Regions from separate parts of the Homo sapiens genome. Here region 2 is linked to region 1. The links come from fine-mapping of genetic effects on gene expression. A gene starts in region 1. The other region holds a variant in brackets. All regions are shown on one strand. Distances are between the middles of the regions.

Region 1 (11,760 bases):
CCACTCCTTTGTTAGGGAGAGACATTCTAGCAAAAGCAGGGGCCATTATACACTAGAATTAGAAGGAAAAAGGTTAAATATACAGACTCTAAGCATGCTTACCTAGTCCTCCAAGCCCACGCAGCAATATGGAGAGAAAGGGAATTCCTAACTTCCGAGGGAACACCTATCAAACATGAGGAAGCCATTAGGCCCCCCAAATTCTCTTTACCTCTGAATCTACGTCCTCTGATCCCTGCCTAAAGATAATTTTGTGGGGAAGAGGATTTGCTTGTGTCTCTCCAGGTGACACTCAGGTGTCTGTGTGGGTGCCCACCAACCATCTGAAGATCTATCACGAGCCACGGCATCTAGTGGACCCACATGTAGAGTACAGTGCGAATTGAAGGTTTGAAAAGCCTCGATTTGCTTTCTCTATGCCTTCTGTTAATCAGAAAAGGCCTGTTTCTCATTATCAGTGGCCTCCCGGCTACAGCCACAAAAGTTTTTGCTTCTGTTTCAGTAGATTTACTAACGTGGGGGTGAGGGTATGCTTGTGTTTTTGCAGGAGATGAACAAACCGTGTGGATACCCTCAAGATGTGTACGACCATGGAATGGGAGACTGGAGGTACCCATGGATCCCAACCTTGGACCGGGTTCCCCCAGTGTGAGCCATGAGCCAGTTGAATCTGAATGCGAAGAAGGAATGAGGACCGACCGGAGTCACGATGCTTAACGGGCCAATGCTTTCTGACTCAGCTCCTCTCTACCCTGAATATGAGAGACCCTAACAGTTAGACAGGAATATCGTCACCCCTATTCAGCATGAAGAAGTTACAGAAGATGGACCTTCATCCTTCTGCAACCCCTAGGATTAAGGGTCTTCTTGTAAAAGGGAAAGGGGAGATATGTGGGAAGCATTCAAACCAGAGCCATGCTAGTAATAATGATAGCTAGTAATAATGATATCTTCTCTTTTACAATAAAGAGAAGGGGGGCATGCTGGGAAAAAGCTGAGTGTTGGGGGGAAACTGAGGCAGGGCTTGCATAATGTCCTCTGGAATGTGTCTAGACTTGCTGGCTCCTTGCTTCTAGCCTTCCTAGGCTCCTAGGCACCTATTCCCATTATCTCAAGTAGCAGAACATGTTCCATATAAATGCTAAACTGTCACAGCTGTAAATCATGTGCTTAATGCAACATGACCTCCACATTCTCACCACCTGTTTCTTAGTTGGATTACCAATAAACACTGTGGGCTCCCAGAGCTCGGGGCCTTCACAGCCTCCGCAATAGCAATGGCCCCTGTTGTCCCACATTTCTCTCTCAAACTTTTTTCTCAATCTTTTGACTCTGCTGGACTTTGTCACTCCCACAACCTGGTGTTGGGTCTGATCACCCCAACAATTTTGTGCATGTCCTTGTGTTCAGGAGTCATTGGCTCTTGAAAAAACTATGTGGCCAGGAAGCAGGAAGAGCTAGGAAGTAAGGTTTTTTTGTTTGTTTTTTGAGACAGAGTCTCACTCTGTTGCCCAGGATGGAGTGCAAACGAGCGACCTCAGCTCACTGCAACCTCCACCTCCTGGGTTCAAGCGATTCTCCTGTCTCAGCTTCCCAAGTAGTTGGGACTACAGGCGCCCGCCACCATGCCCAACTAATTTTTGTATTTTTGGTAGAGACGGGGTTTCACCATATTGTCCAGGCTGGTCTCAAACTCCTGACCTTGTGACCCACCCGCCTTTGCCTCCCAAAGTGCTGGGATTACAGGAGTGAGCCACCGCGCTCGGCCTATACTTGAAAATCTTGAAAGCAGTTATGTCAGATATGTGAACCAGAGAAGCCCATCTTGAATAGCGGCTGGGTAAAATGAGGTTGAGACCCACTGAGCTGCATTCCCAGACAGTTAAGTCATTCTAAGACACAGGATAAGATAGAAGGTCAGCACAAGATACAGATCATAAAGACCTTGCTGATGAAACAGACTGCAGTAAAGAAACCGGCCAAATCCCACCAAAACCAAGGTAACAAGAGAGACCTCTGGTCGTTCTCATTGCTACACTCCCACTAGCGCCATGGCAGTTTACAAATGCCATGGCAATATCACGAAGTTAGCCTATATGGTCTAAAAAGGGGAGGCATGAATCCACCCCTTGTTTAGCATATCATCAAGAAATAACCATAAAAATGGGCAACCAGCAGCCCTGGTAATAGACAGCCCTGCTCTGCCTATGGAGTAGCTATTCTTTTGTCCTTCTACTTTTTTTTTTTTTTTTTGAGACGGAGTCTCGCTCTGTCGCCCAGGCTGGAGTGCAGGGGCGCGATCTCGGCTCACTGCAAGCTCCGCCTCCCGGGTTCAAGCAATTCTCTGCCTCAGACTACCGATGTTCCTCTACTTTTTAAATAAACTTGTTTTCACTTGCCCTGAATTCTTTTTGCGCAAGATCCAAGAACCCTCTTTTGGGGTATGGATCCGGACCCCTTTCCCGTAACACTTACGGACATACTCTCTTATTCAACAGAAACATAGTTTTATTCTATAGATTTTACAATCTATTTTCTGACCTTTTAAAGTTAAGGACATAAGGATAAGACTTCTCATATTAGTATGAACAGGCCACATAGAAATATCTTCTGCCTAAAGGAAAAGGATGCTGAGCATTGGACCGTTTCATCACAAGAAGGCGCGACTTGCTTTCCTAGGGTTCCTGTGGTATTTGTTTTTATCTAATTGAGTTTAGATAAAATCTCTACTGAGGCAGTAGGATGGACAATGAAACTTTTTGAGGATCCACCTTTTAACTGAAAGATTTTAGGGAGGAAATGGAGTGGGCAAAGTAATCAAAAGAACAGGCATTCTCATTACCATCTTACCAAGCCTAGAAGCAAACAGAAGAGCAAAACCTATCACTTAATGACTTCTGGAGACCATATTAGACAGGCAGCCCTGATTTTTAATCTCCTTTCTTAGCATGGTGGAAAATGAGAGAGAGAAAAATGCCACTTCCCCATTTCTTAGTGTTTGTTCATCCAGCACGAGCCGGAGAACAGTAAACGCTTGTTCAATGGTTTCACTGTTCACACAAAACTGGAAAAATGGGTTGCATTAGCTATTCCTTTTATAAATAAGATTTCACTCTTTCAAACTCCTAGCTGACCAGTGAACTGAGTAAAGAAATAGCTCTCACAAGGGCAAAGGAGTGAGGCAGCCTCTTGCTATTTCTCCTGAGACGGTCTGAAATACAGCTCCTCGCTTTAATCCTGAGGCAGGTGTTTGTGTCTCCGGATGAGGACACCCAGCTGGGAAGGCTAGCGACGCCCCCAGGGCCACCTCATGGGTGGCAGGGCGCTCTTCGGAGCACGGCCACCTGCCCGCAGGAGCCCTCCGCTCTCCGATTCCAGGCGAGGGGAGGCGCATTCGGGGCCTCGACTTCTGGGAACCCGGGGTGCCGCGGACCCGCCCAGCAAGGCCCCTCGCGGGGCCCGGAGGACGCCAAGTGCAGGGTTCAGTGGTCGTGCCCCAGTCGGGTCTACACTCAATGGCTGTGCGCCAGCTGTGGGCAGGGGGTCCACACCCGCGCTGTGTCCCCGCGCGTTACCACGGCGCACCTCGCGGACAGTGGGAAGGGATAGCCCCACCATCAGCGCCCACTCCGCGGACTTCACGGACCACTACCGGGTCCGAGAGAAAGGCTGGTGAGCATGCGCGCATTGCTACGGCGGCCGCGCTGACGCACAGGAAGCGGGCGGGACCGGACTTCCGGCTGGTCTGTGGGGTTTCGGGTTCGGGGTTTCCTGGTGGGCGTCAGGGGCAGGCAACAGAGTGGCGGCCGCTACGGCCCTGTAACAGGGCCATGGAGAAGCTGCGGCGAGTCCTGAGCGGCCAGGACGACGAGGAGCAGGGCCTGACTGCGCAGGTAGCGAACTTGCGCCCTCGTCCAGTCCCGGGGCTGCCCGCTGGCCCCGGCCGCACTGAGGACCGGCCGAGCGGGTGGGGTGGGTGCGAGGCCGGGGGTCTGGGACTCCTCTGCCCGGCTGGTTGATTTAGGAGGGCTCCGCCTGCTTCCTGGGTAGAATTTGAGAACTTTCCAGTTTTCCATGCGGTCTACTTAAACCCACTTTGAGGCCCCCCCCCGACTCTCCCATCTGGCCTTCTGACTTAGGAATCCGCTAACGTCTGCCCTCGCTTTCCCAAATAATCCATCGCTCCCACGTACTATTTGGTTTTCTGAGCCTGGTGCGGGGTCTGGCCTCGGGCTGTGCAGCGTAAGTAGCTATGCAGGGCATTTATCCTGCAAGCTGCAGTGAGCCGAGACCCTAAAGCTTGTTGCATCTGTTTGTCTTTGGAGGTAAAGGTGGTGTTATGTGTGTGTTTGCTGGGGGGTGGTCTTTTGGAAATAGGGAGACTGGAGGAAAAATAAACAGGACATTGGTAAGTGAAATAATATTGAATTAAAATTTTTCTGTTAAGGCAGTGAGCCCTGGTAAGAGATTTTTTTTTTTTTCTTAATAAAAGCCCTTGTGTCTGCGCCTTACCAGCGAGACTTGATAAGGGTTACTTCCTCCAGCAAGAAGGTTAAAAGTAGCAGTGGAGCAGGAACTGCGGTGTAAGTTTTTTTGTTATTGCATGCGATTATATTGCACGTTATTGTGTGCTGTCGCAGAAGTTGGACGTTTAAAATTGAATTGTATTTCATAAGGATCTTCTATTTGTCTCTCCTGACTTCCTTGTCATTATACTTACTCAGCACTTGGTGTGGGTAGAGTTCTGGGCTACAGTTTTGGGTTCAGAGAGTGTAAGACAAGTATCTGTTCTCATTGCACTCTGTAACTCTGTATATTACCACAGCCACATGTGGCCAATGAATTTTTTTTTTTTTTTTTTTTAGATGGAGTCTTGCTTTGTCGCTCAGGCCTGGAGTGCAGTGGCGTGATCTCGACTCGCTGCAACCTCTGCCTCCCGGGTTCAAGCAATTCTCCTGCCTCAGCCTCCTGAGTAGCTGGGATTACAGGCACCTGCCACCATGCCCTGCTAATTATTTTGTGTTTTTAGTAGAGATGGGGGTTTCACCATGTTGGTCAGGCTGGTCTCGAACTCCTGACCTCAAGTGATCCGCCCACCTTGACCTCCCAAAGTGCTTGGATGACAGGCTTGAGCCACTGCGCCTGGAGCAATTAAATTTAAATTAATTAAAATTAAATAAAATTTAACATTCAGTTCCTTAGTCACAGCAACCACATTTCACATGTTCAGTAGGCACATGTGGTTAAAGGCTACTGTATTAAACAGCGCAGATACAGAACATTTGCATTGCAGAAAGTTCTATTGGACAGTGCTACTCTAAACTTTGGAGATGCAAAGGTAATATCACTTATCTTGAGCCCACTGTCTAGAGGGGAGAAAGATATGTGGAGAAGTAATCAATCAAAGATTAGAGTGACTGGCTGTATAGACAAGTGCTGTGAGTTCAGAGGAGGTGATCGTTCATTAACAAATATTCAAGTTCCTGCATATGTTTGACATTGTTCAAGATGCAGGTGTTAATAACAGTGACCAGTGCAAATACCTCTTTCACATGGAACTTAAATTTTAATTGGAGGAAACAGTGAATAAACAAGTATATAATGTGTCAGACAGCCACAGAAAAAGTCAGAGCAGGTTGAGGAGGTTGGGGTTGCCATATTACTTAGATAAGGCCTCCCTGCCAGGGAGTCATGTGAGCACAGCTCAGAAGAGCTGCTGGGATGTCTGAGCATCCTGTGAATAAAAGCCTCCAAGGCAGATACAGAGTCCCAAGTGGTGTGTGGTCAGCATGTTCAGGGCCAGTAAGGAGGCCAGAGGGGCTCTAGCAGCGGGGCAGAGAAGAGGGACAATTGTAGAAGAAAAGGTGAAGCAGGAAGGGGGATTCTCAATTGTGAGGGTTCTCATAGGCCATAGAAAGGATTTTAGCTTTACTCTGAGTGTGATAGGAAGCCTTTGGGTTTAGAGCAGAGTGGTGGTGTGACCGACTTGGATTTTAAAGGATCACTCTGGCAGCTCTGTGGAGAACAAACTGTAGAGGCAATGTTAGAAGCCCAGAGACTGGGCTGGAGACAAGTACAGTTGTCCTGGCAAGAGATGACTGTGGCTCAAATCAGTGATAGAAGTGGTTTAAAGAGCAAAAAAGCCTGTTTAAAAAACAAAAAAGTGGTCAGATTCTGTAAATGGTCTGAGTGTACAGCCAGCAGGCCACACTGTTGACGGATTGGATGTGTGAGAGTGGGAGGAGGCAAGGATGCCTCATGGCATTCGACCTGAGCATCTGGAGAGGTGGAGTTGCCATTAAGTGACTGTGGGAGGAGCAGGTTCAGGGAGGAAAATCATTTCAGTGTGGACGTGAAGTCTGAGATCCAGGTAGCATCCAAGTGGAGATGTGAGGAAAGCAGTTGGACGTAACACTGTAGAGTTTGTGGGAGGAAATAGGAGAGAGATGAGATCGTCAAGATGAGGTCCAAGGTTTGACCTCTGGTTTTCTCTAGGTGTGTAGAAGTTTAGAGGATGAGCAGAAGCCGGCAAAGACAGCTGAGAGGCGTGGCGAGAGAAGGAGGAGGAGAACCAAGAGAGAAGGATGCCCCAGAAAGTGAGGGAAGAGAGTGCTTTAGGAAGGGGATGGGACCCAGTACTGTTGATGGGTCTCAGAAGTTAAGAGCAGATTACCCGTGGAGGTTATCAGTTGTCACTTCCACGAGAGCAGTCTTGGTGGCTGGATGGGGTCAGAGGCCTGATTGAAGTCAGGGGAGAATAGAAAGAAGATGGAGATGGTATGGCCATCTCAGTGATTTTTCCTGTGGAGCAAAGAAGTGGGTGGTAGTTGAAGGATGCAGTGGGGTCGGGGAACATGTCATTTTCCCAAGGAAAATACTGGATGTTTCTGTGCATTGGGAATGGTCCAGGAAAGGGGAAAATTATGGTGCAGGCAAGAGGGAATTGTTGCTAGGGGGCTATTGAGGAGTGACTTGGAAAGCAGGTTTCTCTAGGGAGGAGGAAGGGGCAGGAAGTGGCAGTGAGGAGGGCAGACACCTAGCTCACTGCCTGTCCAAGTGGTACAGGATTCACAGGGGAGAGCCCTGGTCCTGGAGACTAAATTTCAAACCTAGCCGGAAGGTGAGAGGATCATCAGAGAAGAGGGTGAGGACATAGGGAGGTTTGCTGTTGGTTTTTGGAGATGGGTAGGAGATGAGATGGGATTAAAGGCGCACAGACCTGAATGGGGTGAGGGATGACCTGAGAGTGTTGCACGTCTTGTGCAGCAAGACGTAACCAGGATGGCGGGCACATTGGAATTGGGTCTTGACAGGGATGGTTCTAGGCCAGTTGAGGAGTTGGGCGAGGCAGTGAAGGTCATAGGGGAGCATCCTGACATCCAGGCTGCATCATCCTCCTATGCAGGCGCTTTGAGCCCCGGGGAGAGGCACGGTAGCCAGAGTTCTGGGACCTCTCCTTCGAGATGCCTGGGAAGAAGTCAAGGAGGGAGAGATATTGAGCCAGATCTTAAGAGAGTTGATCATATTCCTCCCCTGATCACATCCTTCATTGACTTCCTGCAGCACTTGAGTAAAATCCAGATCCCTCCCTTGGCCTCTCAGCCCTGCACTGCTTGTCGGCCCGCCTCCCCACCCTCTCCCCAGTGCTTGCCTTGCCCTGCCCTCTTTCTCCTCCTCAGTTGGAGCCATTTTCTTCTGCCTGGGAGACCTGGCAGTTGCATTTCTTTTTTCAGGAATGCCCCTTCCTGGCTCTTTTCAGAGTTGGATTGGTCACTTCCTGATGTCTTCACTTGGTCACCTCTTTAGAGAGGCTCTTCCTGACCCAGTTACTCTGCCCCTATTTATGTCCTTAGTAGAACCTGCCTCATTAGTTTATTGCCCATTTTCCCCCATCTGAATGTAAGTACGCTAGGTGCTGTCTTATTCCTTTCTGTGTATGTAGAACCTACCAAGTACCTGGTGTCTAATAGCTGTTCATAACTACTTGTTGAACAAACAGATGAGTGAGTTGTTTGGATTTGGGTAACTACCAAGGAGAGCTGAGGGCATTGGCATAAGGTAATTGTTGGGAGTTAGATGACAAGAACATAATGCCGGAACATTCTACAGAGTTCTCTTGTGGGAGTCCTACTAACCCCTGCTGACAATTTGCGAGATGTCTTAGTCCATTCAGCCTGCTGTAATAAAATACCTTAGACTTTGTGATTTATAAACAACAGAAATTTATTTCTTACGGGTTTTGAGGCCGGAAGTCAGAGATCAAGGTGCACTCATGGGTTCTTGGTGAGGCCTCCCCCTTCCTGGTGTCACACTGTTGCCTCTGGTTATATCTTGACATGGCAGAGAGCAGAGAGCTTTAGTCTCTTTCTCGTCTTATTAGGGCGTGGATCCCATTCATGAGGACTCCATCCCCATGACCTGATCATCTCCTGAAGGGCCATCTTCCAGTACCATCACCATGGGGTCGAGGATTTCAGCAAACACTCAGACCATAGCACACAGGTTGAGACAAGTCATTTGCTTGTTGACTGAGTTATTTCATATTTACAAATGGCATTAATTTATCATGTTTCACTTCAAAGATCACCGCGTGGAAGATGGTAATAAGAGAAAAATGCCTAATAAACAATTTAAGCTCTCTCTGCCTTTCCCACTTAGAAGATTGTAAGTATACCTACCTTATCTATTTCCCTCACTGTTCCCATGGTAGGTGTGGGTGAGGTGGTTAGGGGGAGTGTAGAGAAACACAAGGAGGAAGCTGTCTTTCCAGGTAGAAGGAGCTAAGGCGGCAGAGGAGACCCCAAGCAGGAGCAGCTGGCGAGGCGGGAGGACAGTCAGGAGAGCCGGTGGGACATGGGAGTTGAAGAGAACATTGTAAGCAGGAGGGAGTGCCAAAGTGTCCTGTGCTGTTGAGTTGGAAAGGATACTGATGCTTCAAAAATGTTCCTTGGAATTAAGGACACGGAAGTGACTTGTGTCTGCAGGGTTTCAGCCAGGGGAGGGCTGAAGCTAGAATGGTCAAGGTGAGCTTCCCAACCACTGTGCCAGGCGTGTGCCAGCTGGGGGTCCCGTCTACTCCTACAGCCTCAGATAAGGATTCCTGGGAAATAAGGCACTGGGCTAGGAAGGGAACTACATGAAAAAGTGTGGTGGGCCGAAGGGCCTGGGACCTTGACTGCACCTCCCCAGGGGCTACACTGCCTGGGCTGTGCTCCAAGTCTGGTGTGCAGAGGGAGCTTTCCCCGGGAGGCCTGCCTGCTAGAGCCTGTGTAATTGCCTGTGGCCAGCCCCAAAATCACTCACAGTGCTGTGGTCTGAATGTCTGTGTCCCCCCCAGAATTCCTATGTTGAAACTTAATCCCCAATGTGATGGTATGAGGAGGAGGTGCCTTTGGGATGTGATTAGGAATGGGTTTCATGCCCTATTAAAAAAGAGGCCCCAGGCCACATGCAGTGGCTCATGCCTATAATCCCAGCACTTTGGAAGCCTGAGGCAGGAGGATTGCTTGGGCCCAGGAGTTCAAGACCAGTCTGGGCAACATGGCGAGACCCCGCTTCTACAAAAAATTAAAAAATTAGTTGAGCGTGATGGTGTGTGCCTGTGGTCCCAGCTACATGGGAGGCTGCGGTGGGAGGATTGCTTGAGCCTGGGAAGTTGAGGAAAAGAAGGATCCATTGCCCTTTCCATCGTGTGAGGACTCAGAAGGTGTCATCTGTGAACCAGAGATGCCTCACCAGACGCCGAATCTGCTGGCGCCTTGATCATGGACTTCCAGTCTCTAGAACTGAGAGAAATAAGTGTCTGTTGTTTATAAGCTACCCAGTCTACAGTGTTTTTTTAAGAGAATTAAATAGTTTATTAGCTACATACAATTATGGATGATACACAAGCTTCATTCCCATCTATAATGTTATCTGGTACCATTATTCAGTTTAGATATATTGCATGGGATGTGCCAACAATCATTTTTATAACTAATAATTCTGTGACTTTGCTTGGGTGATCCCCTTTGGTGGTGAACTTCAGGTCACAACAGTAACTGTCAGTTCAGCTACACCGAGCTCACTGAAGACAGTGGCTTCTCCACCCGAGCAGAGTGTAAATAAGTTCCAAGTAGAACCTGGCATCACCCTGAAGGAATTCTGACTTCACACTCTTGGGGGAGTTTACCAAGATGGCTTCCGAGGAGACTAACTTTACACAGCACGTTTTTTAAAAGGACACATTTATTCAGTCTCATGATCAGACTATTACATTTAGCAATCAACAGCATGAGTGCAAAAGAAAAAAATTACATTAAAACCCTTTGTTGGAATGCTTGGTACTTTCCACAGAACAGAAACGAAAATAACCTGTTAATAAAATTAGTCACAAATACAGTCCTGGAGTTTTTTGCTCATACACGTGAGTATTGTCTAAAACATATCTTCTTTGTAGCAGCTGGGCTCTGCCACCACTGTGCTTGGCTGACTGAGTTCACAAATCTCTTGTAACCTGTAGCTTCCCTATCGCTTCTCTGGCTCTCCTTTCCGGCTAAACTTTGTTTCCTGGCAGTGATTAAAATCTTCTGCCAGTGCCATGGCTACTGCTGCTACTAGAACCACCATAGCCACCTTGGTTTTGTGAACCCATTTATGCCTGGTATTCCATTATTGGAACGCTAAGCATGTGGGAGTTATTTATGTTCTCCTGTTCAAGGTCATCGCCAAGGTCTGATTTTTCAAATTCAAAAAGTGCAACCTCAGGCATAAATGGGTTAAAATCTTCTGCCAGTGCCATGGCTACTGTTGCTACTGGAACCACCGTAGCCACCTTGGTTTTGTAAAGTAAAGTAAAATTTGGCAAAGTATTGTTCTCCACCACCATAAGGGCCAGAGCTTCTGCCTCCAAAGTTTCCTCCCTTTATGGGTCCAAAATTTGAAGGCTGATTGTTGTAATTGCCAAAATCATTGGAGCTTCTGCCACCTCCAGAATTGATTCCATCATTACCAAATCCATTACAGCCATCCCTGCTGCCACTGTATCCACCGCCACCGCTGTGGACAGCTGCCACCAAAGCCATCATGACCACTGAAATTTCCTCCATGACCGAAGTTGTCATTCCCACCAAAACCACCTCCACAACCACCACCAAAGTTTCCAGAAGCACTTCGACCTCTTTGGCTGGATAAAGCACTAGCCATCTCTTGCTTTCACAGGACTTCCCTAACTTCACAGTTTTGGCCATTCACAGTATGGTATTTCTGAGTGACAGTCTTGTCCACAGCGTCGTGGTTGTCAGAGGCACGAAGGCATAGCCCCTTTTCTTGGCACTACCTCTGTCAGTCATGATTTCAGTCACTTCAGTTTTTCCATACTGTTCAAGATCTCTTAGGCGATGTTCTTCAATGTCTTCTTTAATGCCGCCAGCAAATATCTTTTTCACAGTTGGGCACCTCGTCTTTGAGAATCTTCTCGAGACAGCCCTTTGGTTCCACAACTCTTCATCCACCTTGTGTGGCTTTGCATTCATGGCGCATCCACCTCCTTCACAGCGGCATACAGGACAAACCCAAAGCCCCAGAGTGCTTGGTGCTTGGATCTCATGACTACACAGTCCACGAGCGTTCCCCATCGCTCAGATTGGCTTCTCAGGTTCTCATCAGTTGTTTCAAAGCTCAGCCCTCCAGTGCCGAGATTCCACAGTCGGCCCTCCAGTGAGGAGCTTCCACAGCTGTTTAGGCTCTTTGGGAGACTCTGACTTACACTGGAGTGCAGTG
Region 2 (15,520 bases), 37 kb after region 1:
TATTTCTCTGTCGCCAAGGCTGGAGTACAATGGCACGATCTCAGCTTACTGTAACCTCCACCTCCCGGATTCAAGTGATTCTCCTGCCTCAGCCTCCTGAGTAACTGAGATTACAAGCGCGTGCCACCACTCCCAGCTAATTTTTGTGTCTTTAGTAGAGACAGGGTTTCACCATGTTGGTCAGGCTTGTTCTCGAACTCATGACCTCAGGTGATCCACCCGCCTTGGCCTCCCAAAGTGCTGGGATTACAGGCGTGAACTACTGTACCCAGCTACTATATTTCTTTAACCGCTTTTCAGTTACACCTGCTGTCCTGAAGTTAAACGCAGCCATCTCTCTGGCGTGGCTTTCCTTGCTGGGAACTGCTGCTGGCTGCTTGCATCAGCCGAAGGGTATTTGTAACGGATTCTTTAACAGCCACAGCACCAGTGAGGGCCAGCGACAGAGGCTGCTTTCACGCATTCTGTTTCAGGCCCAAGCCAATCTTTCTAACTTCTAATTTACAAGGAGCTGAAGGTTTCAAGTAGCAGAAGTAGCTGGGCAGGGGACAAGCGATGCTGTCATTTGGGTGCTTTTATCAGAGTCTGAAGAGGGGATAGTCCGTCGGCAATGCTAACTCCTCCGTACTCCTGGGGCAGCAACCCGCCATGAGAACCCAGAGCTCAGAACCCCTCGTAGGAGCATGCTTTGCTCTGAGGGTTCTGGGGAGACAGGGAAGAGGCACTGCCCCTCCTACCTGGCCTGGTGATGAGGTGGCGGACACTCAGAATGTACTTTTCTGCCTCTCAAGGGTCACACAAACTTACAGCTTTCCATGTCTCCAAGCTTCTGGGCTGGTATGAGACGTCTGGGAGGGCTTGGAGAATCCCAGTTCTTGTCTGGTCAGACACGTGCATTAATCTGATAAACTATCACTTTTCTTGGCTTAAAAAGGCCCAAATCGCTACTAGTTTGTGGGTGAGAGGTCACTTAATCCAATCACCCTGATCTACCAAGACTTTTTCCCTCTCAGCTTTAGTGTAAAAGTTGCAATCTGGCCTTGGACTCGCACTCCTGGGGTGGAGTCTTATCTCCTCCGTCCCGTTAGAGCTGTGTGATGGCAGTTGCGTAGCTACCTCGCCTCTGTACGACCAGTGTCCCAGCAGAATGGAGACAGCAGTGGAAGTCGGGAGCATTACTATGAGGCCACCAACCCATTCTCACCCCAAAACTGTCATTCCTTCTGAAGCATCCTAAGAGTAAGGAGACAGGAAGGAGAGAAGACCCCACCAGCACCGTCACAGCTTTTGAACTGCGGGGCTCCAAACTCAGATGTCTGAGTGTCCAAGTGTTTGCTGATTTTTCTCCATAGCCTGCCTCTCCAGCTGTGCCCCCATAAATGATATTTGATACCGCCCCCCGCCCCACCCCCATCCTCTCCTGCCTCACCTTCTCTTCCAGTTCTCCACTTTCCAGGCACAGAACTGTGGGCCTCCTGCCGCCACTGACGTGCCTCTTCCCACACCCATCCAGAGATTCTAAAACCTGGAATAAAACATATTGAGGAGGAGGTTTCAGTATCTTAGGACCTCACCTGTCAAGCCGATTAACAGCCTGAGCCCACCGGCAGAGACAGGCTGGCAGGGATGGAGGGAAAGTGCCTGTGAGCTGGGAGGCTTGTTTCAGAGCTGTATTGGGGTGGCTTGGGAGGTGCTGGTAGAGATGACAGGGCCCAAACCTGTCACCCCAACCCAAGCTCTGGTGAGAAGTGTTTCCCACCACCTGCCAGGTTTCCTTGACGCTCCCATGTATCCACAGCGCAGTTCTCTGAGGCCACCAACAGTCAACAAGGGGAGGCGTTGCTGCTGCCTCGGAGACTGAGGCGGCTGGGGGAGGGCCATGCTGTCCTGCTGTGACTGTTGGCACAGGGCACATTTGTGTTTACCCACAGTTGAATGTGCTCTGGAGCTAACCTGGGGCCGTAACCATCACACACCTGGTTTCCATCAGAAAAGTGTATCTGATGGAAAGTACTTTGTGGAGATCTAAGCAGCTGATGATTATCCTTAAGTAATGCAGGGACTGCACACATGAAATGTTGACTTTTTGATCCGTCACTTTGCAATTGTTCAATTATTTATTAAACAAACATTTGAATATTGTAGGATGTCTTCATGTGTCTACGACTAGAATGTAAATTGACAGTGAAGATTTATCTCATTAATTCTGAATCTCTGCTACAGTGATAAATATATTGCTTTGCTCATAAGAATTATTAAAGGGACTTGATGTCTAATATTTGCCATGTAATCAGCATTATATAGCTGAAACTGAACTATTTTGCCTGTTCATAGATACTTAGGTTTTGAATTTGAAAGTGACTCCTCAAGGGGTGGCATGAACACTATGTAAGATTCACTGAGGGTCATTTCTCCCCTCTCAGCTCCAGCCCGCTTTTCTCTGTGAAGCAGGATGTGTCCGGGGCCGCAGAGCTGCATCTACTGGCGGTGCCTTTCCCGCCGTCTCGAAGGCACGGAGAGGCTACAGGGGATTTTCTCTGAAACGTGCAGGGCCTCCACCTGTGACTCCGGAAGGCTGCCGGCTCCCCCAGGGGAATGCTCCTGGCTTTCGACGGACTACATTAACCTCGGACCACCGGAGCGCCAGCTGGGGGAGCCCCGGGATGCCTGGCGCGCGCTCCGCCCTCCGCTGTCCTGGCACTTTGCTCCCATTCAACAGTCGGTCGTGACACCAGCCGGGCACAGCCCGGGGCCTGGCAGGGCCGCGTCCTTAGCGAGCGCGCTGGGCTCCTCCTCCTGCCGGCCCGGCCCGCGTCTCAGCTGTGGGGACCCGGGGGCGCCGCGACTCGCCCACAGTCGGACGGCGGGAGGCGGTTCCTGCAGGGTCCAGTCCCGGGAGCACCCCCAGGAGGAGGGGAGGGTGGGAGCGCCTCTCTTTGAGTCCCCGGGTTTGGTCGCTGGGATGTGAGGAAGCCGGAGAGGCCGCGGCTGGACGCAGGTGGGTGTGGAGGGGCCGCCCGGACTGCGGGGACCCGCTCCGCGCACAGTGGCTGAGCGCCCGCCTCTCTTTCCAGGGGCTGAGGATCCGGCGGCTCGGCTGCACTATGCCCTTCCCGCCCATGCCGCCGCCGCCCGCCCCCGCCCCGGGGGCCCAAGCCGCGCGCCAGTTACCCCGGAGGCCCTGCGCCGCGGGGGACAAGAAGAAGAGGCCCCCACAGCGGCCCGAGGGGCTCCTCTCCAGCTCCTGGCCCTCCGCCACGCTCAAGAGGCCGCCGGCCCGGCGCGGCCCCGGCCTGGACAGGACGCAGCCGCCGGCCCCTCCGGGCGTCTCCCCCCAGGCCTTGCCCAGCCGCGCGCGGGCCCCAGCCACGTGCGCCCCGCCCCGGCCGGCAGGCTCCGGCCACAGCCCAGCGAGGACCACCTATGCGGCGACCTCGGCGGGGACGGGGACCACCGCCGCGGGCACCTCCTCGGGGGCGGGGCCTTGTCCAGACTCCGCTGCGCGCTTCTGCCTGAATCTCACCCCCGAGGCCGTCCTGGTCATCCAGAAGCGTCATCTGGAGAAGCAGCTGCTGGCGCGGCCCCGCAGGCCCTTCCCCTCACCCTCGGCCGAACCCAGGCGCCTACTCGCCCCGTGTCTCCCGGCTAGGGCCGCGGGCCCGCGGAGGGGCGGCCCCGCCAGCGACCCCGACGCACCCCCCACCGCCGGCCAGGGCCGCCGCGCGCCTCCGCCCGGCGCCCAGCTGCTGCACGGCGGCCTGCAGGTTCCCCAGCTCAGCCCGCGGCCCGGGGCCCTGCGGCCGATGCTCAAGGTGTCGCTGCTCAACGAGCGGCACAGGTACGACGACGTGGAGTACGAGGAGGAGCCAGAGGCGGTGGACGAGGGCCTGGTACGCAAGTGCACGGAGTGGCTGCGCGGCGTGGAGTCCGCGGCTGCCGCGCGGGGCCGGGCGGGGGCCCTGGACTCACGGCGGCACCTGAGCACGCTGTGAGCCCAGCGGGCCTGCGGGGACAGGCCAGGCCTGATCCCACCTCACTTCCTGCACGCGCCACTCCGCCTAGGGGCCCTCGGGGGAGACCGCAGGCTCCTCTGGCCGCCAGCGCCCACTTTCGGGACACCAGTGCGCAAGCTGGCCCACGTGGGGCGCAGCCAGACTCGCCCGACGGCCACGGCCCCCCTCCTGCCCTCGCCAGCCGGCAGCCCGGGCCTTTCTCGTTCACACCGGTGGTATCTACCCCAGATGCCTGCCTCTGCCCCCACTCTGGCCTCCTCTTGGCATCGCCGAGCATCCATGCAGTTCGTGGGGAATTAAGCAACTGAGAAAATGCCTCTTGGTGCCCCGACCCCCAGGGTTCGTCTAGGTCCCAGAGACCCTCTGCCTGGAGGCGGGCCTTCCCCAGGGCTACATCTGCACGCCCCGTGGTGTCACCCTCAGCCGGCGCCGGGCACCCTGGACAGTGCGGTGGGCGATGGCCCAGGTGGGTGGCCGCGACGGTGGCCTCCTGCAGAGCTGGGACCCGGTCCTACATTCGTGATTTTGTTTTCTCCCAAGTCAGAAAAATGTTGAGGGTATTAGACATCCCTGAAACTCAGTTAACCGAATTTCCAGTCTCCAAAGCGGAAGGGTAGGCATCGCCAGGCGCTGGTGAGCCCTGGTCAATGAGCGCTTCCATGGAAACCGCTCGGCTGATTACATTTTTTCTGTGTATTATTTGAATAGAGAGTAAAGCTCCTCCGCTGTTTCGTAACCATATCCTTTCCCCCGCTAACTGGAGGCTGATTTCTACATATTTCTTCCATGTATCTGAGAATATCTAACTAGAAGGATGAGAAGGAAATAAAATGTTATAATCAGATAAGGCTGGTTATAAAAGAGTAATGTATTACCTCAATTTTTGACTGACTTTGTAAAAGCCAATAACTGGTTTAATGTTTATCTTGATAGACTTTAAATGTATCAAGTCTTAATTGTATTTTAAATTGAAGCCTTACATTTTTAAAACAGATTTTGTATTTTTCTTGTGGAGGTCTTTGCTCTAATAACACACACACACTGTCTCTCTCTCTCTCTCTCTCTAATTCTAGGCACACATTTAGTTAGATGTGAAGCATTTAATTCATTGGGAGCTAGGTCAGCTGCCAGATGAGTTGCAAAAACAGAAAAAAACCTACCCATTGAATAACTTCTTTGAATTTGGAGATAAGTTTTCTTTTACTTAAAATGAATATATTAATTCTAGAGGGGCAAAACTAGCAATGCTTATGCAAGTGACGGTGCTGCTCTTGTTCCACCCCCACCCAGATGGTCTCTGAGTGCGCCGTCCTGGGCAGGGCACACGGTCTGGAGCTGAGAGGGTGGAGCAAGAGTGCACTGACTCCGAGCCGAGGGCAGGAGTGGCTCAACTTGGTCTCGTCTTGCACTTAGTGCAAATACCAATAATTAAGATGCCTAGACTTCTGCCCTTGGTCACAGTAACAACAACATTTTGAAGACTTTTCCCTGGTGGCATCCTAGAGGGACCGACTTTCTGCAGCCTCTGTCTTCCAAGCTGAGCTTCTGCTGCAGTGTGGCTGTCACTGCACCTGTGTGTCTCCCTGACGTCCCTGTCAGCTGCTTCATTTTGATTTCCTTTCTTCTCCCGCCCTTTCTGTAGGCTCTGTCCCAGCATCTCCTGTTCTTAACTGGCCACAATACAACACTAAGCGCATTTTTAGTAATTTGTATTTATTAAATAGAGTTTGTGGGCCTTGTTCTCTACTTTAAAAGCAGATGAGTGGAACATTTATGTTTCCCTGGTCAATGAGCTTCAATAAAAAACAAACAGAAAAAAGGTTTTACACGTGACACATGATATCTTTTCATTGCTGTTAAGGACATTTTGAGAAAGTTTTCTAAGTCGCTATGCTCCAATTTCTTAATGCTTAAATAAAAGAGAAATTCAGTGACTTGTGATTCTTTTTGAGGGGGACACTGAAAACTGGTCAGGAAGAGACTACTGAGGGATTTACAATTCACATGACATGATTTCTTCATAGTGGCACTCAACCTAAGGTTCTGGGATTTCCAGGAGTTGAAAAAGGTTTGCTGGTTTTAATCACTACTAGAATTTTTAAAAATCACTACCAGGATTTTTAAGATAGTCAAATACTGTAAGGTTATTTGGCAATGACATTTGACCTTTTATGGGGCCACAAATCCCCGTGAAAGCTATATTCCAAAAGGACTCCTAAAACCGTGTACCACATAGCAACAAAACATTGCATATAATTTGCATATATTTTAAGAAGCTCATGGGTCCCAGGTTAAGGACTCCTCCTATATACACTCACTAGAATATTTTTTTTATTTTGCCTAAAGTAATTTCATACTGGTAGGTCATACCAATCAGAAATTAAAGGGTCAATTTGAATAATTGCTAGACTATTAGATTACTATTATATTATTATCAAATTCTCCCATAACTGTAATATCTCATAGCAGGGACTGAGGAGGACTTCCATCCCAGGAGAGAAAATTGGGTGCCACTATGTAAGTAAAAGTGTTGCCAGTTCCAAAGATTGAGCATATATGTGACTTAATTCCCTCTATTTAGAGAATAGCTGGCACTTTAAGATAGGTTTTTATGTTGATCTGCCTTATTTCTAGAAAAGTGGATGCCAAGTTGTCAGAACCATTAGTTGTGGGGTTTCCCTGGAAATCACGCGGTTCAGTTTAGGGTGGGTGATCTGTGGGATCTCTGCTTTTCAGCCAACCGTGGTATATCATTCAAAGAAAGTCTGAAAATAACAGTCTCTCTAGTAAGCAAGGACACTTTTGCATCAACAGAAATGCACACACAGGCCTTTGTGACCTCTGGGAAACCTGGATTGATGTGGTTCCC[C/T]AGCATGGCCTCTGTCCAGATGCTGCCTGGGTAAGGGCACAGCTGCTCCCATGGCCTGTAGTGGAGGCCCCTTGGTCTGGCTTGGAGTCAGAGCGCCCCTCAGCATTGTGTGGGAGAAGGTACCGCACCATGGTTCAAGGTGGGTTTTGGTGCCCTAGAGGCTGGAGTTGCCACACTGATGCTGTCATTTATCCACATCTTTCATTAAACTTCCATGTCTGTTTCCTCTTCTGTCTGTGGGGATAGTTGAACATAGGTGACCCTGGTGAGGATTATGAGGCAATATGCGAAGCGTTCCCCCAGCTCAAAGTTAACTGTAATTTTTACTATTTCAAAAAAGTCTTTACTACTCAAAAAACTCTGGCACTCTTGTGCACATTCAAAACCTCCCTAGTTACAGCATTCTGAGATTTTTATCTTTAACCATTTAATGCACACCTACACTTTTATATTCCTGAGGAATTAAAAAATTAAAATGTCTATTGTGTTTTGCCTTCTTATCTCACACTTAATTATTATGTTATGAGCACAAAATTTAGCTCTGAGCTTCCTGGTAGCAGAGACAAAGTTTAAAGTAAGAGTCATATAATCTCAATATCTAATAACAAGAAACACTTCTTGGAGAAAATTGTTATGTGTGTATTTGGATTATATACAACACAATGGATAGTAGTATCCTTAAATGCAGCTTCTCGAAGATGCCTAAGTGTTCTTGTTGTTTTTTTATTTTTTGAAACGGAGTCTCACTCTGTCACCCAGGCTGGAGTGCAGTGGCGTGATCTCGGCTCACTGCAAGCTCTGCCTCCTGGGTTCACACCATTCTCCTGCTTCAGCCTCCCCAGTAGCTGGGACTACAGGTGTCAGCCACCATGCCCGGCTAATTTTTTTGTATTTTCAGTAGAGACAGAGTTTCACTGTGTTAGCCAGGATGGTCTCGATCTCCTGACCTCGTGATCCACCCTCCTCGGCCTCCCAAAGTGCTGGGATTACAGGCATGAGCCACTGCGCCCGGCCAAAGATGCCTAAATGTTCTTTACATTACTATTAGCTCTTGATGAAAGCCAGTGGGGTCATTATCAGCGACATCCTTGCTGGAACTGGACCATCCCACCTTATGGAGGTGGTGTGGATGGAAACCTACAAAATACAGTAGGGAATCTTCAGGAAGCAGTTTTAGATCTGCTCAAATATTTAGCAAGTACTGCCCTAGTACCTCAGACAATTCGACATCAGTCCTTAAATGTTTGGTCTCGTGACCTCTTTCTAGTCTCAAAAATTATTGAAGGGAAAAAAAGTATTGAGGGAAGCCAAAGAACCTTCTTCAGTGTAGGTTTATCTATCAGTACTTCCTGTATCAGAACTAAGAGACCCTAGAACAATCAAACTGCTGGTTTCATCCATACCATGTTGGCTCCTAGTGCCTGCTGTAAAGGCTGGGTTAGCTGCATCTGAAATGGATGGGAAGTGTTTTAAGAAACAGATATTCCAGACCTCAGACCTAGGGATACTAATTCAGTAGATCTGGGAAAGGGCTGATGTGCCACCAGGTTGGGAGCCATTGCTATATGGCAAGAAATACACGACCAGGCTCAGGAAATACTTCAGGCAGATTTTATTGAAGGTGGATTTAACCAACTGTGTCCTCTCACAAGAGACCCTGCAATGCGACTCTGTCAATATAGAGTCTCCTTTTCTAGGTAGTCATGTCTCCCTTCCTGGCCATGTGTTTTCACGGCAGGGAGGGTAGGATGCAATGACCAAAAATAACTAAAGTGACCCCATGTCATCAGCCTAGGCACCGTCCAGCTCATAGAATTGGGAGTGCTGGCCACTCCACTTCTGGGGGGCCTTGCCCCACATCTCATTCATCCGGAGTCCCCGCCCTTGATGACTGTGTCCTAGGTCTTCCCTCGTCTACCTCTGTCAGCATAATTATGAGAGCCTCCCAGATACAAGCTTCTACAACACAGCACATGCCACTCCCGATGCCACTCCTGATGCCACTCCTGATGCCATCCTGTCACCAGAGCGGGAGGCAGGCTCTGAGAACTGCAGATGCATGGGCGTGTCCTGAAAAGCCAACCCCAGACAGTGCATGGAGCTCAACACCTGATTTTACGAGGAAATTATAACAAGTATCTGTTGAGTATTTCACTTTGAGCAGGATAGTATGCCAGCAGGCCCAGAATTGTTCAGTTATTATTCATTCAAAAAATATTTACCCTGCCTCTACAGGATGAAGGGTATCTGAGACACAAAACTAACTGGAACTGTTCCTTACGTAATCTAATGGGTCAGCATGTCCAAAGGTGTATCCAGGTCTGCCGAGAGCAATGACTTTGGTTTGAGGACAGTCAATATTGAGCGGTTCTTTAGGACAGCCATTGATCTGTATTTGTTTACTTGGGCCAATTTAACAGAATACCACACACTGGGCGGCTTAAAAAACAGATACTTATTTTCTTATAGTTCTGGAGGCTGGATGTTCAGAATCAAGATGCCGGCAAGGCTAGTCCCTGGTGAGGCCTCTTTCCTAGCTTGCAGACGGCCGCCTCCCACACTGCGTCCTCATAGAGCCTTGGTATCTCTTCCTTCTCCTACAGGGATGCCAGTTCTGTTGGATCACAGCCCTCACGTATGTGCCCGTTTAACCTTAAAATTACCTCCTTAAAGGCACTCTCTGCAAATATAGTCACAGTGCATTTAGAGCTTTGATATATTAATATTAATTTGGGGGTGTTGGGGACAAGATCCAACCCAGAACGTGGTCTGTGGTTTCAGTTGCTTTTTAAGGCCACTTATGGAATATGATAGCAAGATAAGATCCTCAGCTTCTTCCCACCACTTAGGTGCACACACAGCACACATACACAAACACACACGTACACAAATGTACACATGCGCACAAACACACTCGTGCACACATACGCAAGCATGCACAGAAACACATAACTTTTGGAAGCATAAAAATAGAAGAGTTTTTATTGAAATTTGAAAAATTAATTAGTTCAACCTTTTTATTTCTACCTACAAGAATGTGGAGATGAAAGAATTTGCCGAACTAGTCAGAAATGTTCAAGCCAGGACTGAAGTCTGTAACCTAAGATTGCAAAGATTTTATTTGCTCCCCACAATCTCTTATTTTTGCCTTTGTATCTGCTCTGAAATTTTGTTTGTTTTTGTTTTTGAGACAGAGTCCCACTCTGTTACCCGGGCTGGGGTGCAATGGCGCGATCTTGGCTCACTGCAACCTCAGCCTCCTGAGTTCAAGTGATTCTCCTGCCTCAGCCCCCCAAGTAGCTGGGATTACAGGTGCCCACCATCATGTCTGGCTAATTTTTGTATTTTTAGTAGAAACAGGGTTTCGCCATGTTGGCCAGGCTGGTCTTGAACTCCTGACCTCAGGTGATCCACCCGCCTCAGCTACCTAAAGTGAGGGGATTATAGGCCTGAGCCACCTCGTCCAGCCTGCTCTGAAATTTTTGACAGAATCTGTGGGCCAGGCAGATAATCTAAGGCATAGTCCCTTAATGAACCTGTGCAGGGCGCAGGCCCGGCCAGGCTGTTCTCCACTGCCTGCTGGCCCACAGCCCTGCGGCTCCAGCCGTCTGTCTGCATTCTGATGCATGTGTACAGAGAAACACTCTGTCTTGCTTTCTCTTCTTAAAAAGTTTTCTTTTTCTTTTCCCCACCTTCTCTCTTTTTTCTTCTTCTGATCACTTCTTGGCAATTTTCATTTGCTTTTAACTTTCTCTTCTTTTTTCGCTAAAGCCATGACCATATGCTGTCTCTAGCTGACTCAGCAGTTATCTTCCTTTCCCTTCTAGGGGGAGGCCACCGAATTAAAAGGACACAGACTGTACATTTCCATATCACTAAGAGAGAAAATCTCAAACGTTCTCATCACAAAAATGTCAAACTTTTGAAGTGATGGATAGATTAATTAGCTTGATTTAATCATTATGCATCATACTCAAAATTCATAACATCTGCATAAGTCCTGGAGGTGGCTTCTCACATATCCACCAACAGGTAGAGCGTCGAGATGCTGGTGCTGACTACTTTGCATGCATGGGCAAGCTTGAGCCTCACAGCAACCTTCTTTGCCTTTACAGGTATAGAAAATGAGTCTCTGGCTGGGCGCATTGGCTCACGCCTGTAATCCCAGCACTTTGGGAGACCAAGGTCGGGGGACGCCTGAGGTCAGGAGTTTCAGACCAGACTGGCCAACATGGTGAAACCCTGTCTCTACTAAAAATACAAAAATTAGCTGAGCATAGTGGCAGGCACCTGTAATCCCAGCTACTTGGGAGGCTGAGTCAGGAGAATCGCTTGAACCCCGGAGGCGGAGGTTGCAGTGAGCCGAGATAGTGCCATTGCACTCCAGCCTGGGTGACAAGAGCAAGACTTCATCTCAAAAAAAAAAAAAAAAAAGAAAAGAAAATGAGTCTCTGAGGGTAAAGCAACTGACAGATTCACCTCACACCTATTTAGTTTTACAGCTGGGCTCATGCCCAGGTTGGCCTGAGTACAAGTTCCTAACCAGTATGCAAAGGGCCTGTCCCAGTGCTGTGGGGCCAGTGGGAGACCAGGTAGGACTTCAGGAGCCTCCCAGGAAGTGGATTTAGGACCTTGAGGGTTCCATGGACCATAGATTTAAAACCTTTGATGGATAATGACCACAGCAGAAATCAGCAAAATAGGACAATAGGGAGGATTAACAAGGTCCGAAGCTGATTCTTTAAAAATAAGATTAGATTAAGCAACCCTTAGCAAGATTGATCAAGAAAAAAAAAATAACAAATTATCAAGACCAGGAATGAAAGAAGGGATATAACTACAGATCCTACAGATGTGAAAAGGATCCGCAGACATGCCGTGAACAGAAAGAGGCCCGGGCCACAGCCCTTCCAGCCCACTGCCCACAGTGTCATGCAGAGTGAGAACTCACCCTCATTTCCCACTGTGATTTTAGAAAGATATTTTTTCTGTGGTCAATACCTTCTTTGCCATAATTAAAAACAGCCAATATACACATGACTGAGGCTGAAATTCTGTGATTTACAATGTTCTTTGTAGGAGTGGACGCAAGGAGGATTTTGCTTTTATTTCCTTCATCGAAAGAATAGATATACAGAACTCCCCCAGCACACATCATCTCAAATGTTTTGAAAAAATCTTTCCCTTTTGCAAACGAGAGCCTAATTTGCATGGCCACAGCATTCATGGAGAGGGGGATGCCTGGTCCCTGGGGCGTGAGAACCCCAGTCCCCCTCCAACACCCACTGCCCTCTCTGAGCAAGCTCTGGACTTTAGCTCACCTCTCCGCCCCTGTAGATCTGTGCAAGAGATCAGCTTCCCACAGCCCCTCCCGCCTTCTAGTAACATCAATAAGAAGACTCACCTTAATTTCCGAGGTCTCACATTCATCACTGACTGGACACAACTGCTTTGTCAGTCTTGTAGATAAAGGCGGGGAAACTCTTTGGGAGGGGTCCCCCATCACTCAGGTAGGAGTGGCAACAACCAACTCATAGCCAGTTCAAGGCAGACATGGCTCCCTTCTGGATGGTGCCTGCCTCAGGGCCTGGGGTCAGTGGAGGGAGCTGGGCTGGGTGTGCCCCTCTCTGTACCTCACCCCATAGGGATGTCCTGTTGGAGCAGGGAGGGAAACATCCCTGCAAATCTACTTTGGACTACCTCCCAACATGCACTTGCCACTGTTGCTTCATGGTCGAGAGGCCAGCAACATTCGAGTTAAGACTGTTTGGGGATTAGAGAAAACGGCCTGTTTCCTTACTATAGCTCACGATGGAGGGGTCGGCATGGGGTTCCTGAGTTAGCATCATGAAAGCAGGAAATCTTTACTCCAGGGAGTTGTTTAAAAAACACTTATACGAGCCAGGCACGGTGGTTCACGCCTGTAATCCCAGCACTTTGGGAGGCCGAGGCGGGCTGATCACCTGAGGTTGGGAGTTTGAGACCAGCCTGGCCAATATGGTGAAACCCTGTACTACTAAAAATACAAAATTAGCCGGGTGTGGTGCTGCATGCCTGTAATCCCAGCTACTCAGGATGCTGAGGCAGGAGAATCGCTTGAACCCGGGAGGCGGAGGTTGCGGTGACCTGAGATCGTGCCATTGCGCTCCAGCCTGGGCAACAGGAGCAAAACTCCGTCTCAAAACAAGCAAACAAACAAATAAAAAACATACAAAAACACTTATACGAAACCAGCTATCTGGGAAAACGAGAAGGAGGACAGGCGCTGAGGGGCACTGGACGGCTCCGACGGGGGCCATGGGTCCCCTGTGCTGGCTCCGGTCCCAGGTCCACCCCTTTCTTGGGGAGGGACCGCCGTGGGGCCGCTTCATCTCTGTGCCCGCTTCCCCAGACAGAGCACAGCAGGTGCCGAGGCCCGTGCCTGGCACTCGGTAAGATGGCCTTGGCCATCGTCTGTCACCGTCACATCTCGTCCCTTGGTGCAGCCCTGCAAGGGTGAGCCTGGCTTGACTGCAGCCCAGCGCCGCGGAGACAATGGAACCACAGAGTTCCGAGACACTCGCTGCCCTTTGTGGCTCTCCTCATCTGCGGTGTCGTCATGCCGCAGAAAAAGAGCACACGCAGCACACAGGAGACAGGGACTTCAGACAAAGGGCCTCGTTCATCCACTTAAAGGACAACGAGCGCCCGCTTCTGTGTCATCCCAGGGTCTGCGGAGGGACATCGAGAGGAGTGGAAGTGTCAATTAAAGAAAACTGAAGAACAGATGAGCTCACATAGTTTCATATTTGTTACAAATCATGATGCTCTCAGGCCAACTGGATCCAGGGGGCAGCCGGGGCTATAGTCAAAGCCGCACTAAAGAGATGACTTTATCTCCCTACTCTCAACAGCAGGCATATATTTTGTGGAGATAGAAAGTTATGAGCACCTTTTCTAGGGATACCTATCTGGGCTTGCAGCCCAGCAACTTCCAGAAGAAACTATAGTCGCATGTCGACAATAAAATATTTACCAGAATTTTAGAAGAATGCATTCTCAATCTTCTCAGGGTAGCACCTCGTGCAACAGCACAGGAGAATATTGTGATCACACCAGTGATATTTTGCTGTGTGTAGTTTTTAGGTTACACTTACCTTTGTTTTAAAATAGATCTGGTTAGGATGATAAATGAGGAGCTGGGAAATGAAGGGATAGAGCGAGTTCTAATTACGTGAAGATCTCTAAGAAATAGTCTTGTGCTTTCTGAACCCAGGGGAGCGTGTTTCCAGTGGTACTGGAGACCTGGGAATAGGCTGGCTGGAATTGCCTGATGTCTCAATTTTCCATAGCCTCCCCCAGCACTGAACCCCATGAGCACGTACTTAGTGATGATGGCTGAAGATTCTATTTTTGCTGTAAAACACAGTCAGTACCATTAGGGTGAGCACGGCAAGGCAACTGGAGATGGCTCATTTGCTCCATAGTAAGCTACTGGGATTTTTTTAACGAGGAGAAGGGAGGGCGTGAAGTGTTTGAAGAGGTGGGAGAGGGGTGGGCAGGGCACCCAGAATGAGGGAAGACTTGGGCATGGAAGGAACAGGGTCAGCTGACGCCCACTGGTGTCACCTCTGCCCTGCCAGCCCTGGAGGAAGAGGAAGGAGAGAGCTGGTGAGCGGGAGGGAAGAGGAGGAAACCCACTTGCCCTGGGCTTTGCAAAGTGCTGGAAGGTTCCCTGCTCACTTCCCTCTCTCTCAAGCCAGCCCCTCCTCCAGGTCCAACCAAATTCTCCGAAGCTCAAAATGGTTCGGATCTTTCTCTATGAGAAACTCCTTCAGAGTCAGTTTTTAACGAAACAGACTCCAATCAGTACCATTTGTCTTTTTTGGACCACATCTGTGGGATGCATAAACAGAAGCGTCCTGTGTGGCTTGCTGGGGCTGTGCTGGGCTTGCTGACATGAACGTCCATAGGTACTTAGATTGCTTCATGTTGATTGGGTTGATCAAAACATCCTGAGTCACTCTTTCATTCTACAGACCAGTGTTTCAGATTTTTAACTGTTCTGCAATGCATGGATTTCTTTAACTGTAATAGCACCAATAACATCCCCAGATGGGATTGCAGAGAATGAAAGACTTGTTCCTTCAGCTGGGACTAAAGAGCCTGCTATTGTTTCCAGAGCATTGCTAGCTGACTCTGGTACGTACAGCTTGTTAGTGTTGTTGATTTCTTCAGGAAATTGAGAGAGAAAAAATTTCAAGTACTTGGTATTGTGGACAAATTATTAATCCCCCTCTCAGGACACTTGGCAGCTGGGTAATGCACCAGTAGACTGGTGCACATCTAGGTGGATTTCATGAAGCTTAAAGGGGATTCACCCTGCAGACTGGTTCTTTAATATCATTAGACTATGAACTACACATTTCCAACAGGGTGTGTTGACATGGCATGTATTTGTTTACCAGTAATGTTGGAAGGACCCAGAGCTGTCTCACATTTAGCTGACTTTATGCTGTTCCTCCCACCCCGCCCCAACACAAACACACACACACACACACACACACACACACACACACACACACACTTCTGCTACTGCAGACCTGATAGAAGGGCATGGAAAATTCTGCCTTGTGCAACTGACCTTCAGGCATCACAG

The links.
Region 2: its variant is fine-mapped to the expression of SFT2D1 in whole blood (INTERVAL, PIP above 0.99).

What each region holds. Positions count from the first base shown.
Region 1 is chr6:166,334,552-166,346,311 of GRCh38, reverse strand. SFT2D1 (SFT2 domain containing 1) reads left to right here and starts at 3,767. Exons shown (of 8, transcript NM_145169.3): 1 at 3,767-3,893. The coding sequence starts at 3,831. It overlaps LOC100289495 (a long non-coding RNA gene), which reads right to left and starts at 3,681. Exons shown (of 2, transcript NR_040022.1): 1 at 3,165-3,681. It also overlaps the pseudogene HNRNPA1P49. RefSeq lists an enhancer at 2,942-3,835 and a silencer at 3,897-4,056.
Region 2 is chr6:166,295,727-166,311,246 of GRCh38, reverse strand. It overlaps PRR18 (proline rich 18), which reads left to right and starts at 2,855. Exons shown (of 1, transcript NM_175922.4): 1 at 2,855-5,947. The coding sequence starts at 3,105. The coding sequence ends at 3,992. LOC107986669 (a long non-coding RNA gene) reads right to left here and starts at 3,699. Exons shown (of 3, transcript XR_001744464.2): 1 at 3,524-3,699; 2 at 1,430-1,525. RefSeq lists an enhancer at 2,423-2,702 and a silencer at 2,773-3,372. The variant C/T (reference allele first, on the strand shown) is at 6,883.